Linked DNA regions of Homo sapiens: region 1 is linked to region 2. The links come from fine-mapping of genetic effects on gene expression. Tissue or cell type: whole blood. Region 2 holds a variant in brackets; the other region holds the start of a gene. All regions are shown on one strand. Distances are from middle to middle.

The links. PIP is the estimated chance that this variant, and not a neighbour inherited with it, causes the effect.
Region 1: it holds the start of PPCDC, and the variant in region 2 is fine-mapped to the expression of PPCDC in whole blood (TOPMed, PIP above 0.99).

What each region holds. Positions count from the first base shown.
Region 1 is chr15:75,019,919-75,028,019 of GRCh38, reverse strand. PPCDC (phosphopantothenoylcysteine decarboxylase) reads right to left here and starts at 4,430. Exons shown (of 6, transcript NM_021823.5): 1 at 4,394-4,430. It overlaps SCAMP5 (secretory carrier membrane protein 5), which reads right to left. Exons shown (of 7, transcript NM_138967.4): 7 at 6,525-8,101.
Region 2 is chr15:74,400,013-74,408,113 of GRCh38, reverse strand. No RefSeq gene overlaps it. Among named protein-coding and RNA genes, the nearest start is that of MIR6881, 7.4 kb to the left of the region's middle. RefSeq lists enhancers at 2,094-2,193, 2,214-2,283, 2,304-2,353, 3,773-3,852, 4,113-4,382 and 7 more and a silencer at 4,938-5,147. The variant G/A (reference allele first, on the strand shown) is at 3,588.

The sequences.
Region 1 (8,101 bases), 620 kb before region 2:
TGCTCAGGGTGACCATCTCTAGAAGTCAGAGATTGCATCCCAGAAAAAATGACATTGGGGTTGAGTCCTGAAGGATGAGTTAGTTTTTCAGAGACAGGAAGAAATCACTTCAAAGGAAGGAACAATCTTGCCAAGGTGAAGGTCCTGAGGAGGGTGGCAGGTTGGGGAACAGGGAGTGGCTTACTAGTGAGGCCGGACTGTGATGGGGGGTGGTAGAGGGGCAGAAAGTGAGACTGAAAGTCAGGGTGAGGCCAGAATGCCGTGGGCAGCGAGGGCCAGGGTGAGGAGTTTTGGTTTTAGAAAGACGGTGCTGGCACCTGGTGACAGTGTCAAAGGGACCCTGTTAGTGGAGAGACTGGAGGGCGAGAGGAGCTGCTGCGGTGGACTGGGCTGACTGGTGAAAGGAAGCGGCAGGAAGGGATGGGTTCCAAAGATGCTCATGAGGTGGAACCCTGGGCAACAGGGAGGTTTGGGTGCTCCAGGGAGCCAAGAGATTTGCCTCTCTGTCCCTGTCCCTGTTAATCAAGATGGGCACCACCGTACAAATCAAAGCCCAGGAAGAAACCAGCATAAAGGGGATGCAGGCCACCCCAGGAGATTAGCTGGTTTGCTTCTTCCTCTGGCTCTCAGACGTTGCTAGAAGTGTGCACTCATGATAATATGGCTGATGGACACCAAAACCTACACGTGGCGGGTTGGGCCAGCAGAACGTGCTTCATCAGCAACCATCACTGAGGACCGATTACAAAGAACACCATGCAAAGGAATTGTGGAAAACACAGTAGCTGCCTCTGGGGAATCTGTAGGTTGAGTTTGAGAAGACAGGAATGACACCTGTCTGAAATTATTTGAGATCAGTCCTTCCCTGGGATGCACCTTTTTGGTGATCACAGACTCAATTAACACATCAGTTTCCTTGCCTCTCCCTCCACCAGCAAGCTCCCTGAATGTGTGACCGGGTCTAATTGCCAACCAGCAGTCCACTAGCCGGCAGTCCTGAACAGGTGCTGAATGAATAACTATACCCTCCAAGGCAGTGTGAGCAGAAGACAGATACCTAGCCTGTGAAGCAGAAGCCCTGGGCCCTGACCATGGTGTGCTCCTGACCTGGAGTGACCCTGGTCCAGGGTCATTCCCTCCCTGGACCTGTCCCTTCATCTGAAAAATGCAGAGGTAGGACCAGATGATCTCTGAAGCTCCTTCCAGCAGAAACTTTGAGTCAATACATGAAAGAGAGCAGTAAGGGGCTCTCCTTCCAAGACAGAAGGTCCTAGAAGATGCACTCAAAAAAGAATCAGCATGGCAAGGGAAACCCAGGCAGCTGCCCAGGAAGCAGCGCTGGTGAGTTGTCCAATGGCTACCTCCATGGCTGAGCATCCACAGGGGCCTATCTCCTCTTCACTCACAGGCCCCTTGGCTCTCTAGCCTCTCTGCCCAGGATTTGCCTTCAGCACTTGAGCACAACCCACGTGGGCTGAGGATCATGTTTGGCTGCATTATCCCACTTCTCAGCAGGGGTTAAGCACAGGCTGGTTCCCTAGGGCAAGATCACCCAAAGTTTGATTTGCCAGTAATCTCAATGTCTGCTCCACTGCAGGGCCCCAACCAGGGCAATGCTTGGCCAGAGTTGGAGAACTGAGTTTACCCCAGGGAGTGGGGAGCCCTGTTAGAATCTGACAAGGTACAGAAGGGCTACCAGCCAGCTTCTTCCCAGAACACATCATTGGTAGGTGATGGAGGCACATTCTTTATTCTCCAGGGAAACCTACCTGCCAGATCGCAAACCCTGACCCTGTCCCACCCTAGCCAACTGGTGCTAGGATAGGTAGATTCCTGCAAAACCAGAAGCCAAATTTTATCTCTGAGGCCCCTGAACCTCCTCCACATCAAGCTGATCTCATTCCTAGGAAACAGGTTACAGAAAGCAGTCAGTTAAACTTGGGGCAGGAATCTGTATTAGTGACTTCAACTGCTTCCCCACAGCAGGCACTATAGTCCGAAATACAGTACTTAGCCTGCTTAGCAAAGCTGTGCTAAGGATCAAACCTACCTACCTTCCTAAAAAAGAGGGTGTGTGTGTGTATGTGTGTGCTTAATATACTTGAAGAATAGAAAGTGGATCATTTAACCAACATTTGGAGGCGAGGTCCAATCAGTTCAACCTGAGAATTCCAGGAAGGGTGATGGCTGGCAGGATTCCTTCATTTGCTTGCAAAGAGGATCAAATTCCAAACCAGTAAGTCTATTACTGTAACCAGAACCTGTTGGAGTCACCTATTTGCACAGGTAGCTGTAGTACCTGACTTCCCCGGGCTCTGCTGAATTCACAGGAACTCCTGAGCAGCAAAAAGAGTTGGCAAGTGGGCAGGTTATAGGGCTACACGCTTTGATTACTGAGCCTCAAGATCCCAGGGCACTAGCCAAGCAGGTAAGCCACAGCCAGAAAAATGGCAGCTTCTCTATCCTCCAGAAAGACAGGGACAGACAGAGCAAAGAGCCTCAGCTTGTGATGTTTAAGTCTCCTCTGATGAGTTTAATTCAGGGCAGAGTTTTAGGTTTCAGGGATACCTGCCAGTCCCTATATGGGCAAAGGTGGAGCTGGCACAGAACCAGACTAAAGACAGAGCAAGGAAAGCAAGGCCAGACAGGGTATACGTTCAAGCTCAATACAGGAAGGATGAGAACTGAGCCTAAGACAAAGCAGAACCAAACAAGGGAAGTGGGTGGTGGGTAGGCAGGGATCCAAGATCCATTATGAGCCTGAATCCTTTAGCCTAACATCAAAGCCCCTCACTACCGGCTGCCCAGGCTTCTGCTCCAGCTTACACCTGTAATCCCAGCAATTTAAGAGGGCAAGGTGGGAGGATTGAGCAAACCCAGGTACTCGAGACCAGCCTGGGTAACATAGCAAGACCCCATACAAAAAATTTAAAAGTTAGTGAGGTGTGGTGGCACATGCCTGTGGTCTCAACTACTTGGGAGGCTGAGGCAGGAGGATCGCTTGAGCCTAGAAGGCTGCAGTGAGCCATGTTTGTGCCACTGCACTCCAGCCTGGGTGACAGAGAGAGACCATTTCAAAATATAATAATAGTACCACAAAAAAAAAAAAGTGTGTAGCTATTTACATAGCATTTACACTGTATCAGGTTTTATAAGTAATCTAGAGATTATTTAAATTATATGGAGGGCGTGGTGGCACGTGCCTGCAGTCCCAGCTACCTGGGAGGCTGAGGTGGGAGGATTATCTGAGCCCAGGGAGTTCGAAGATGCAGTGAGCTATGATTGCACCACTACACTCCAGCCTGGGAGACAAGAGTGAGACCCTGACTCAAAAAAAAAAAAAGAAAAGAAAAAAGAGTATACAGGAGGGTGATGTGGTGGCTCACACCTGTAATCCCAGCATTTTGAGAGGCCAAGGAAGGAGGATAGCTTGAGCCAGGAGTTTGAGACCAGCCTGGGCAACATGGTGAGACCCTGTCTCTACAAAAATGAAATAAAATAAAAATTAGCCGGGTATGGTTGTTTATGCCTGTGGTTCCAGCTACACAGGAGGCTGAGGCAGGAGGATCCCTTGAGCCCAGGAGGTCGAGGCTGCAGTGAGCCATGTTCCTGCCACTGCACTCCAGCCTGGGTCACAGAATGAGACCTTGTCTCAAAAAAAAAAAGTATACAGCAATCCCCTGCGGATACTGAGGGATAAATGTATCTAACACACACACTCACACACGTGGGCTACTAGAAAGGCAGTGACTGCGAATTGCTACTTCCCAGCCACTGTGAGAGATGTGGAAACCCCTGCTCCAGGACAACCACCACTTCCCCAACTTGGCAACCTCTCCTGCTCACCATCTAGCACCTGCTTCCAAATACTTCAAGGACAGCAGGAAGTTCTTTTCTGACAAGATTTGGCCTAATTTTTAAATAGCACTCAGCACTTTTTGGCAGGCCTAGGGCTACTTCCAACATCCCATGGCTTTCCTTTTTTAATTTTACCAACTTTTTAAATACACTTTGTACTTTGGGCAGCCCGGGTAAGCGTTCAGTGTGAGGAGCTGACACGGCCATCATTTAAACTAGATTAAACGACACTGGACAAATAATCGCAGAGCAGCACAAAGTCGGGCTGGACGGGTACAGATGCAAACCCTCCACTCAGGGCTCGGGGGTCCCTCCTGCTCCAGGCGGCCCCACCCGTACAGCCGGGAAAGTGAGGTCGCACAGATGGACGGCCGCCTACCCACGCACAGTCGCAAACAGAGCTTCATGGGCACACAGGGGAAAATAAGGACACACACAGACAGCCGTGGACCCACGCTCGCGGACACAGCTCCCCGAACCTCCCCTCCCGCGCCGCCGCGAGAACCCAGCTTCCCAGCCCCCTTCCACTGCTCACCCGCGCCAGGCGCGTCTCGGGGCCGCTCCCAAATATCGCGGTATCTCTGCCGCTCTCCCGCGGAATCTGACTGGCACGCCTCACGAGAGCACCGGGCTGGCTGTATGTCGCGCAGCCTTCTGGGAGCTGTAGTCCACTTCTCTGCCTTCCGGGAGTTGTAGTCCACTGGGGAAATCCTGGAGCAAACCCTGGCCCTGTTCTTTGTATTGCTGGGACTCTCGATAGGGGCTGGCATAACTGTCCGACCTCCTTTCCTCACTCCTATCAGCCCCACACACACTGCTTGTTGCTTGGGGCCTTTTTTTTTTTTTTTTTTTTTTTGCTGTTGTCCCAGGTTTATTGAAAATATTACAGTATCTCAAAAAGATTCAAACAGCTTCCACGTGGCGTTTTGAAATTCATCCCCACTGTTGGCTGAGTGACCTGCAGGTTGGACAGACTGCCAAAGTCCAAAAACATCAGCATTTCCTTAATGTCAGGATATGTTAATACTTCAATGATTTCCTGATCCAGGGCTGAGACCTCAGGAACATGATTATCTCTCCTTTCTCTCTTCTCCTCCTGCAACTTGATGCAGATACCTCTCACTGAGCGCTTCAAATCAGCTTCATCACATGCATGTTGTAGCCTGCTATCTTGTTGGGGAGCTGTTTTTTTTTTTGTTTTTTTTTTTTTTTTTGAGACAGGGTCTGGCTCTGTCACCCAGACTGGAGTGCGCAGTGGTGCTATCTCCACTCACTGCAACCTCCACCTTTTGGGCTTAAGCCATCCTCCTATCTCAGCCTATGGAGTAGCCAGGACTACAGGAGTGCACCATCATGCCAGACTAATGTTTGTATTTTTTGTAGAGACGGGTTCTCACTCTATTGCCCAGGCTGGTCTCAAACTCCTAGGCTCAAACAATCCGCCCACCTTGGCCTCCCAAAGTGCTGGGACTACAGGAGTGAGCCACCACGCTCGGCCCTGGGGAGCATTTTGCTGGAAATAATGGTGATCTCCTTGCACATGTGTTGTTTGTGTGGAAGTTGCTGCCCGGGTGTGTGTATTACTTTTTTATGACGAAGTATAGAAAAGGGCTATCTTCATGGTATTAGTGTGAATGGGGCCCATGTTGGCAGGTCCTTAGTAAAAGAGGGCTCGTGGCACTTAATATTTACCAAGCCTCTTCTATTTTAGGTGCACAGGATACAGAGATAAATCAGATGCGTCCCTGTTCTTGAGACAAACAGGGACACAGAAAATGACAGGGTAAGATCCTCCATGAGGAAGCAACACCTCTAGGCAGGAAAGCCTTCTTGAAGGAGTGACTTGAAATGAATCTTGAAGGACAGCCAGGAGGTTAGATAGAGGATCCCAATAGCGATCCAGGTGGAAGGCATCAAATGGGCAAAGGGAAGGCGGCAGAAGAACACACACTGGCATGCTTCCCTGCCCCCTTCATTTTCTAGCCTTCACAGGCCCCAGGAACCTCTGTATTCATTGAGGTGGCTGAACCAGCTGCGGGTCCCCTGCCCTGAGCTGAGGTGGGGCCTCTGCTCTACCCCCGCCCTTAGCCGCAGTGGACCATCTGGGCCAAACCATCCCTTACGCAGGGATCCAGCCGTGTCTTTTTTTTTTGAGATGGAGTCTTGCTGTGTCGCCCAGGCTGGAGTGCAGTGGTGCGATCTCGGCTCACTGCAAGCTCCGCCTCCTGTGTTCACGCCATTCTCCCGCCTCAGCCTCCCGAGTAGCTGGGACTACAGGTGCCTGCCACCTCGCCCGCCTAATTTTTTGTATTTTTAGTAGAGATGGGGTTTCACCGTGTTAGCCAGGATGGTCTCGATCTCCTGACCTCGTGATCCACCCGCCTCAGCCTCCCAAAGTGCTAGGATTACAGGTGTGAGCCACCACGCCCGGCCGATCCAGCCTGCTTCTTCTACTTCCTCCTCCCAAGGCAGGGGGCCTAGGTGGCAATTTCATCACCTACTGAAGGCTGCCTCAGAGAAGGAGCCACACAGGGTCGTATAGCTCTAGGTCTCGGGGAATGACAGACCACAGATCCACCCACCCCCCATACTTTCATGCCCCTGCCCCACAGCCCGCTGTGAGGCTCCACGCAAGTCCACAGGAAGACACATGACACAGCAGAACACACAGGGCCAAATGTTCCCCTTTATTATGGTTCACTCAGTTACCAAAGACAGACACATTGGCTCAGGCAGCTCAACTGCCAGCTGGGGAACATCCAGCTCCAGAAACAGGGAGCAGCAGCGGCACCAGGAGAATGGCAAAGCAGGTCACTGGGACCCCAGAACTGACCTGGGCCCTCCTTCACCCGACCCCAGGCCAGACCTTCCTACAAAGATGAATGTGTGCCCTGCCCCCACTTCTCATACTGGTTCTCTCCCCGGGAAAGTGCATAGTTGCCTGGAGATGCAGCATCCCAGGGCCTGAACAAGCTGGGCCACACACCGGGATCAGGCTTCCCAAGGGTAGAGCCAGAGCATGGCCATATAGGTCCAAGCCAAAGAGGCAGGTAGGACAGGAAACTGATTGGAGGTAACATCCAACAGGTCATGGATGCTAGGCAGGGAGCTGGATCACAGGCCTCCTGGAGCTACCAGAGAGAGAAGGGAAAGGGAGCCAAAGTTCTGGGGTAGGGGAGAGGAAGGGAAAGGGAAGAAGGGCCTAGACCTAGGTACCTTTTCAGGTACCAGGGACTGTGACCATTGCTCCCAAGAGAGAAAATGGGAGAGGGGAGAGGCAATTATATTTTGTGCCCAAACCTAAAGGACCATCAGGAAGAGAATTTCCAGAGGCCCCTGGCTCAGGATGGCCTGTAAGCCTAGGTATTGGGTTCCAAGCTGAAGCCAGGCCAGAGTAGCCAAGTGGGGTTTGGATTTTTGTCCAAACAGCTCAGGCAAGCTTCTGGTGGGAGAAGGGAAGGTGGGAAATGGGCAGATGCTCTTTGGGCGAGAACCCACTCCCCTTCAGGCCCCGCACACAGCTAGAGCCTCTACCAGCCATGTTCTCACACTGCTTGGAACAGAACAGCCCCACGGGCCTAAAACCACTCTCCTGAAAGTGGTAGGGAGTTCCGACTGGGTGAGGACAAGCCAAGACCAAGGCCTGTAGGCAGAAGGGAGCAAGTTACCTTGATTTGGAAAACAAAACAAAACTAAAGCCAGAGAGCCTCCCCTCCCACCCTGCCTAACCTGAAATCCCATTCAGGCTATTGTGCTTGCAGCCAGGACTGGGCCTGTGCTTCTGCTTGGGCCCTGAGTTCAAGTGCCCAGAACCGCCCTGTGACCAAGAGCAAGCCAGGGTGGGGGAAGGCATGCTCCCCTCTCACTGGGCCCTGCCTGCCTTCTCCTCTGACCTTCCCTCCGTGCCTAGCCCTCTGAGCCCTGTCCTACCAGATCCAAACAGAACAGCTACTGCTTCCAGGAATCCAACGGTCACCGAGAGATACCTAAATGCCTCACTGTGCTGGAGCCAGCCAGACCTTCCCCAGGGACCAATCATTACTGACATGCCCTCTGCTCCAGCTGTGCCTTTACATCTGACAACTGCCCAGCATGTCCCAGCTCCTCAGGGAAGGCAGTAAGGCAGATGCCACCTGGCACATGGTGGGGTCAGGGTAGCAGAATCAAGCCACAGCAACTGGGGGCATGGGGAGGAGGCAGAGGGACATAGGCAGAGGGGCTCAAGGGGGCTCTGGGGAGAGAA
Region 2 (8,101 bases):
ATTTTTGGCGTTTGTGGTCCTGGGCAGACCCTCGCCTTTCCCGAGCCTCATTTCTCTCCTGTGTAAAAGGCAGGGCTGGACCTGGGCTTCTGTGGACCCTTTCCTGCACATCTCGTCTGTCCCAGTCCGTCTGTATTCCAGTGCACAGCCAAGCATCGGCATCAGGATGGGGGTTTCACAGGCTCCTGCTCAGCAAGCTGGAGGCTGGTGGCAAAGCAAAGGATGGGAGTGAATTCCAGCCCCAAATGGTCTGAGCGGCGAGTGGACAAAGTGTGGGCTTAAGCCTTGGTCCCTCCTGGAGTGCTGCTGGTGGTCTCCACTGAGTTCCCTGTCCTCTCTGGGCCTCAGCAGCCTCCCTCTTTCCAGAGATGCTCCTGGTGCTCTGATGGGTCCATGGCAGGGGATTTGAGTGATGGAACCCACTCCATTGTCTCTGTGGAGGCACCAGGAGAGGCTGGGCTGGGAGGGAAGCCGTGTGCATTAAGGCATGAAATGAGCCCGTGTAAATTCCATGTAAATGAGCTGGCAGGGATGAGGCCAGCCAGGCACAAGCCTCCTGCCCTGTTTTCCCCAATGGACAAGCAGCACAGCAGGCCTCTAGCTGGCGGTGTGTGGGCAGGACGGTTAGGCTGGGCCCGGGTGGTGGGAGGATCTGCTCTAGCCATAACCACACGATATCCACAGTCCCAGCACTGGCTTCTTGAGGGCCAGGCCAGGGACCAGAGCCAGGCCAGGGGCAGGAACCAGGCCCATCCTTCTCCCCTCTCTTGTGCATTCTCGTTGGGGAGGAGGAAGAGGGACGAGACTGAAAGCTCAGCTCTCCTGGGGAAGGCAGCAGGGAACTGCAGATTTCGTTCTGCCTCCCTCCCACTTTAGGAATGTAGAGTCATTACGGTTTATCCCCCATCCACATGTCCTGTCATCCTCTCTCCCCGAGGGAAGGCTGCTGTCCTCTTGTCTCTCTGCTACATCAAATCATACCCTTCCCATCTCTCCTCAGACTTCTACCTTCCTTTGCTGGAACCGCTCTGCATTTGCTCCTGTGATTCCCTCCCCTGGAATGCCAGGAGGAAGATGCTCCCAGGCAAAGATTTCAGAATGACATGGAATTCTCCAGAGGAATCCTGGATCCCCCCTACACTAATGCCTCAGCCTGTTCACTCCTGATCTTTGGGAGGGTGCACCTGGAAGCAAGCTCTGGGGTCCCTGGGGGAGAAGGCACAGCCCCTGCCCTGGAGACACTTAAAGCCTGGTAGGGAAGGGCTGTGGGCTGGACAGTGACCATACGTGTGACGGTCCTAGGTGGGAGGTGGGAGCTCAGAGGAGGAACCTAACCCATTGAGCGGAGTGCTCAGGGAAGGCTTTGAGTAGGGCCTTAGAGGATGTGTAGAAGTTCCCCAGGAGGAGAGTGACTGAATGGAGAGGGAACAGCATTTACAAAGGCCTGGGAGTGTGAGAGGGCCTGGGGTGTTATGGGCTCGCTGGAGTAAAGTGAGCTCCATGAAGCCAGAAATCCTTGGCAGTTTTGTTCACAGCTGTATCTCTAGTACCTAGAACAGTGCCTGGCACATATTAGGTGCTCAGGACATTCTTACTGAATGAATGAATAAGATGAGAGAAGGGAGAGTATCTAGAGGTGAGACTGGATGACTCCAGCAGTTCCCGATCCTGGGAACTAAAGCAAGATCTTTATCCTGCAGACACTAGGGAGCAATTGAAGGATTTTGAGCAGGGGTGGGGTAGATGATAATGATAATAATGGTGAGGATAATGGGAGCCTGAGATCCGTGTTTTCTTACACCCCATCTCTTACACCAAAGACCCACTCCTCACCATTTCCAGGTGTTTCTAGCTCCTTAAATGGTCCAATTTTAGCCTTCTGCTTACTGGAAAAGAAAGTGCAGCCATCCTGGCTACAGTGCCAGACAGGAGGTCTGTAGGCTTGGGCCAGTGGAATGGGGCTGAAATGGCTAAATCTGGCTCGGAAACACTTTTATCTCAATATTGGTTAACTCTGGGAGGAAGAGACCTTGGGAGAAAAACAAAAACAAAATCCACATTCTCAGGGTCACCAATGGCCATGAGTCAGCCCCCACCAAGGGAAGGAGCACAGAACCACACTCGGGAGGCGCTGGCCCTGTTAGTATGCTGGGGCGTTTCTGTAGGGTGGTGTTCACACCAGAACCGCTGCACTCGAACCAAGTCAAGGTCCCAGAACTCTGGCAGTTCTTTCAAGTTGGGCAAAATAAATGAGCTCAGAAGGGCTTAGGTAGAGGTGAACACGTCCTTTGGGGCTGAGCCTATATCATGGTGGGGAAACACATGGCTTGCAGCTTGATTCAGCTGTAGCCTATGCCTGGAGCAGGCATTGCTGATCAATTGTGGCATTCCTTTCCTGAGCTCATATGAGTGATTTTCTTCAGAACTTGCATTCTCTGGGGGCTACTGGGCACTTGAAATAGGGCTCATCTGAATTGAGATGTGCTGTAAGTATAAACAACACACTGGATTTTGAAAACATAATATGAAAAAAATGACCTTAAATTTTTACATCGATTACACTTTGAAATGATAATATTAGAGGTTGGGCGTGGTGGCTCACACCTGTAATCCCAGAGCTTTGGGAGGCTGAGGTCAGTAGATCACCTGAGGTCAGGAGTTTGAGACCAGCCTGGCTAACATGGTGAAACCCTGTCTCTACTAAAAATACAAAAATTAGGTGGGCATGGTGGCGTGTACCTGTAATCCCAGTTATTTGGGAGGCTGAGGCAGGAGAATCGCCTGAACCTGGGAGGCAAAGGTTGCAGTGAGCTGAGATTGCTCCATTTTACTCCAGCCTGGGCAACAAGAATGAAACTCTGTCTCAAAAAAAAAAGAAAAAAAGAAATGATAATATTTCAGATATAAGATATATTTGGCTAGATAACATACAAAAATTAATTCCACCTATTTCTTTAACTTTTTTTGTTGTTGTTGTTTTGTTTTTTAGATGGAGTCTTGCTCTGTAGCACAGAATGAAGTGCAGTGGCAGGACCTTGGCTCACCACAACCTTCGCCTCCCAGGTTAAGCGATTCTCCTACCTCAGCCTCCCGAGTAGCTGAGATTACAGGCGCCCGCCACCACGCCCGGCTAATGTTTGTATTTTCAGTAGAGACGGGGTTTCACCATGTTGGCCAGGCTGGTCTCCAACTCCTGACCTCAAATGATCTGCCCGCCTTGGCCTCCCAAAATGCTGGGATTACAGGCGTGAGCCACCGCTCCTGGTCTTCTTTAACTTTTATCTAGTGTGGCTACTGGAACATTTTAAATTATGTGTGTGGCTCATATTGTATTTCTGTTGGACAACACTGTTACGGAATATCTGCTCTGCGGGGGCAGGGAATTTTGTCTTTTTTTGTTCACAGCTAAATTTCATAGCACCTAGAGTAGCACCTAGCACACAGTAGGTGGTCAGTAAATTATTTGTGGAATGAATGAATGGATCCTCACCAGCATTTCTCCTTAGGAGTCACCAGCAATTGATCAGATGGAACTTATTTGCTACCCCGAGCCTAGCGGATGCTACACCACAGTGCTAACAACCCCC[G/A]TTTGTGCTTTCTGACTTTAGAGCTTGTGTCGCTCTCCTGGGACTCTCCTGATACCCAGTGGGGCAGGTGAAAGTGGACTCTGGTGAATGCACTGCTCCGCTGAGGGTCTTCTGAAAGGGAACGTTTCCGTTCCTTCTGATCAGGAAGCAGGGCAGTGTGCAAATGGTATGGAAATCACTTCTTGTGGGTGTTTGCCTATCTAGGGTGCTGGGGATACTTCCAGTCCACTTCCTGACCCCAGCCCTTGGTCCCTAGAGACAAAAGAGGAAGCTCTGGAGACTTTGAGCTCTGGGGGCAGATCGGGGGAACTGGGGCCCCCTTAGTCTTTCCCCAGCGAATGAGGGCTTGTAGCCCAGAGCATCCTCATCTCTCAATTCAGCAGGAGCCTAAAAATAGTCTGCAGTTTCAGCCTCCCCCACAGCCGCCCGCGCCAAGTGGGGCCCTGCGCCCGGCAGCTCCTCCACAATCCAGACTGTCTGCACAATCTGCCCCAGCTACCGACCCCCATCTCCTCGGCGTCTGTCCCATCCTGGCCCCTGAGAACCCTGAGCTCAGCACTCCCTGCTGTGAGGCCTGCTGAGGGTCTGCTTCACACTCTGCCTTTCCTAACAGCCTGGGCCCTGACCCCTGGAATTCCAGACCCCATGTTTTGTCCACTCTCCATTCTGGAGGGGACGCTAGCCAGACACAAGTGGGGTGAAGGTGTTGCAGGTAATGAAACCAGCACATGCAAAGCATGGGGTGCGAGAGAGCACAACATGCCATGGAAGGGGTGAGCCGGAAGGGCTGGGTGCACGGGATGGAGTACGGGGGCCAGTCCCAAGCTGGAAGGCAGCACCGCAGGTCTGTTGGCTCCCACCCCACGCGTGGATGCCCTGGAGTAGATGATGTCTTCGTCCAGCCCACGGTGGAGCAGGACTGCCCCTTGGATCAAGTAGCCTGCAGTAGCTCTGGTGCCACCCACACCTTGTGTAGAGCCCAGAAGGAACGCTTAGGTGCCAGGGCCTGTCTCCCTGTTTTGGGTCCTCCACATCTTGTGGGAAGCCCTGGTGCCTTCCGGCTCTGAGCTTCTGGGGTTCCTGCCTGCTTAGCAATACAGGAAGTCTCCTCAATGAGGTCCAGCAAGGGGAATGCCTCGAGGCAACCAGTACCTTGGTGGCAGAGCTGGAATGAAACCCTCCATATCCTGATGCCCAGCTGGGACCCGTCCCTCCCATCAATGTCGGGCGACCACTGCTGAGGACACATCCTGGTCAGAACCTGAGATACGGGGCTTGGGGACCTGCCCTGCAGAAGGGTTTCCTGGTGGCAGGAGTGAGTGTGCAGGTGACACTGCTGGCCCATGACGGTTCCACATTCTGAGTGAGCAGGGTCCCAGCTGCAGGAAGTGGTGGCGGCAGAAGTCACAGTCACCTTCCTCTCCTGGGGGCCGGCTTTCGGGGAAGCCAGGGGAAATGCTGAGCTCATGGGCTGTTCTTCCCACAGCTGGTTTCCAAGGCCTTTTCTTGTCCCTGACATCTCTCCACAGCCTCACCACAGCCCTCAGAGGCGGAATGCCATCGTGGGCATTACTGTCCCATTAGGCAGAGCAGGTGCAAGGCCAGCCTCTTGCTCTGAGCTACCTGCCCCTTCAGAGCCTGGCCTAGAACCTGGACTCCTGCCTCTTCCCACCTCCACACAACACCCTCCCCCAAGGAAACAGGGGTGGGTGGAATCTAGAAGCTTCTCAGGTGAGGTGAAGGTGTTGGGAAGGCATTAGAACTTGAGGTTTTCTCACCTCCACCAGCCCCTCATTTCCCAGCAGATGTGAGACCTCCTTGGTGTGCATGTCAGCCCGTGATAGGTCAGTCTCAGGACGTTTCCCCCAGCATGGGGCCTGTCAGAGGAGCTCCCCCTCCCCAGCCACCACAAGAGCCCAGTCACTGGGAGCGCCCCTGCACCCTGGAAGGCATCCGAGGGATCCAAGCCCATTCCTCAGCTTGAGGAAATGGCAGCCCCTGCAGAGGGCCCTGACTGGCCCTGTGAGTGTGGAGGTGGGGGCGTCCTAGCCCTGATACATCCTTTCCTGAACTCCACCCCAATCATGGGTATAAACACAGGCAGAACATCAATGAAGTGAGAGGAGAGTTGTCTGCCTTGGCAGCCAGCACCAGGGAAGATGGAACTGTGGCTTGTCTACCTGTCTGGCCTTCTGTTGTTCTCTGTCTCAGTCTCATTCTGTTTCCCTGTTGGTCTCTGTTTCTATTCTCTCTCTCTCTGTCTCTCCTTGTTCCTATTTCTCTCTCTGGCTTGACCTCTTATGCTCACTTACACAAAACAAGCATGCATATATACAACAGGTGGGCACATGGGACCACACGTATGACCTGCTCACCCATACACACGTACAAACATGCACATCTGTGCACACATGCATCCACACAGAATCCTCCCTCCTCAGATCCTGTATGTATATTCAGAGAAGGGGGTGGTGGTGAAGCTCTCTTTCCATGTATCCACAGGCTCAGGGAGAACCCACAGTTAATTTCCAGGCTGTTTCTGCCTCCCTGTCACTGGCAACTGGGAGCTTGGAGGAATAGGCTGGGATCCCCACTGATATCTGGGACTCTGGTGGGGATCTCTGGGCCATCATAACCTGCCAGTGAAGAGCATGAGAGGGGAGGGGGAGTCTCCGGAGGTGAGCAGAAGGGACGAGATAGGAAGATGAGATGTTGAGTTAGCAGTGCACTGGCCTGGAGGGCTCTCTGGCTCCTTCCCCTCCTGATGCTCTTCCTGGTGGTCCTGCTGAGATGCCCTATGACCCACCTGAGAGCTGGGGACCAGGGACGACTGGACCACAGGAGGCCCCAGAGGGAGGCGCCTGCAGGGAGGGAAGCCTCCTCAGTCATTTGCCCCACCCACAGAAAGCTGGAGGCTGGACGTCCCTAGGGTGTGTGGCCATGAGGAGAGAGCCTTTATTCCTGTCCTTTCAGGACAATGGGCCAGATGAGGCCCCACCAGGTACTTGGGTTTCCTGGGTGGGTCGGGGCTTTCCTGGAATGCTCAACCTTCCTGGTGTCCCAGGGTTGAGGTAACTGCATGGGAAGAGGGTAGGCAGGAAGCCCTTACGGTCTGTAAGGACCTGTCCTGCCCTGGAGTCTGGGTTCAGGTGGTCATCAGAGCCTGCACGCCTCCACCACTCTCAGCATGTGGGCCTGCTCCCTGTTCAGAGCAACCCCCTTACTGAGCACCTGTGTGGTGCAGGCTGTGCTGGGAGGAGGCTTGTGAAGAGCAGGTGAGCTAGGACTGGGCACCAGAGAAGGAGGAGCCCCTTTCGCTGCTGGGGCAGGAGCTAGAGCCCCCACGGGCATGTTTTGGTGTGGGGACAGATTCAACAGGAGCCCAGGGATCTTTCTGAAATGTGACACTTGCCTCCACCCTCCTTGCCAGAAAGGGACATTGCTCAGCCACCTGGCTCAGCTTCAATAAGCAAGTAGTAATAGTGGTGAACAAAAGCCAAATGCGTAAGTCACGCACCTGCCCGGGACTGTTCTGAAACTTTGTGTGAATTGTCTTGGTTAGTTTTCTCACCAGCCCTTTGAGGTTGATACTATTACTATTGTCTCCATTTCATAGTTCAAAGAACTGAGGCTGAGAAAGAGTAAGTAGTTTACCAAAATTTCACAACAAAAAGATGCATCTAATCTTTGTCCTCAAGAAACAGGGGTTCTACTTTTACTTTTTTTTTTTTTTTTTGAGATAGGATCTTGTTCTGTTGCCTAGGCTGGAGTGCGGTGGCACGATCTTGACTCACTGCAACCTCTGCCTCCCGAGTTCGAGTGATTCTCTTGCCTCAGCCTCTTGAGTAGCTGGGATTACACCACGCCTGGTTAATTTTTTTTTTTTTTTAATTTTTAGTAGATACGGGGTTTCACCATGTTGACCAGGCTTGTCTCAAACTCCTGACCTCAAGTCATCCACCTGCTTCAGCCTCCCAGAATGCTGGGATTACATGTGTGAGCCACTGTGCCCGGCCCAAGCTCCTGCTCTCTTTGCTGGGTTCGCGGTTAATACAAGTGATACACACAGCAGAGAGAAGCAGTCAGGTGGGCCACTCTGGCAAAATGGCAAAGATCAGGTCTGGGACAGAGTCTGCCCCAGTGACCAGGGTTCCCTACACAGAGTCCATTAGCACCCGAGTCTTGGACCTCAGAGGAAGATGATGGGATCACTTGTTCCAAGACACCCTGAGGCTCTGAGACAGGGAGGTCACCTGTCAATCTGTCCTACTTGGGACCGAGGTGGGCTGAGAGGCCCTCTGCTTGGGCTGCAGGGCCCCTGCAGGGGTTGAGGATCAGCTTTCTCCTCTCATTGGTTCCTGCCAGAACCATCTTAGGGAGCAGCTGCTGTGGGGGCTGCTCTCCCACAGCAGGGAACCCACATCCTGCCCCATTACAGCAAAGTGAGCATCCGGTGGGGGAAGGACCCCCACGGGGGGCCTGAAGCTGATGAAAGTTGAGTCAGGGTGACTCAG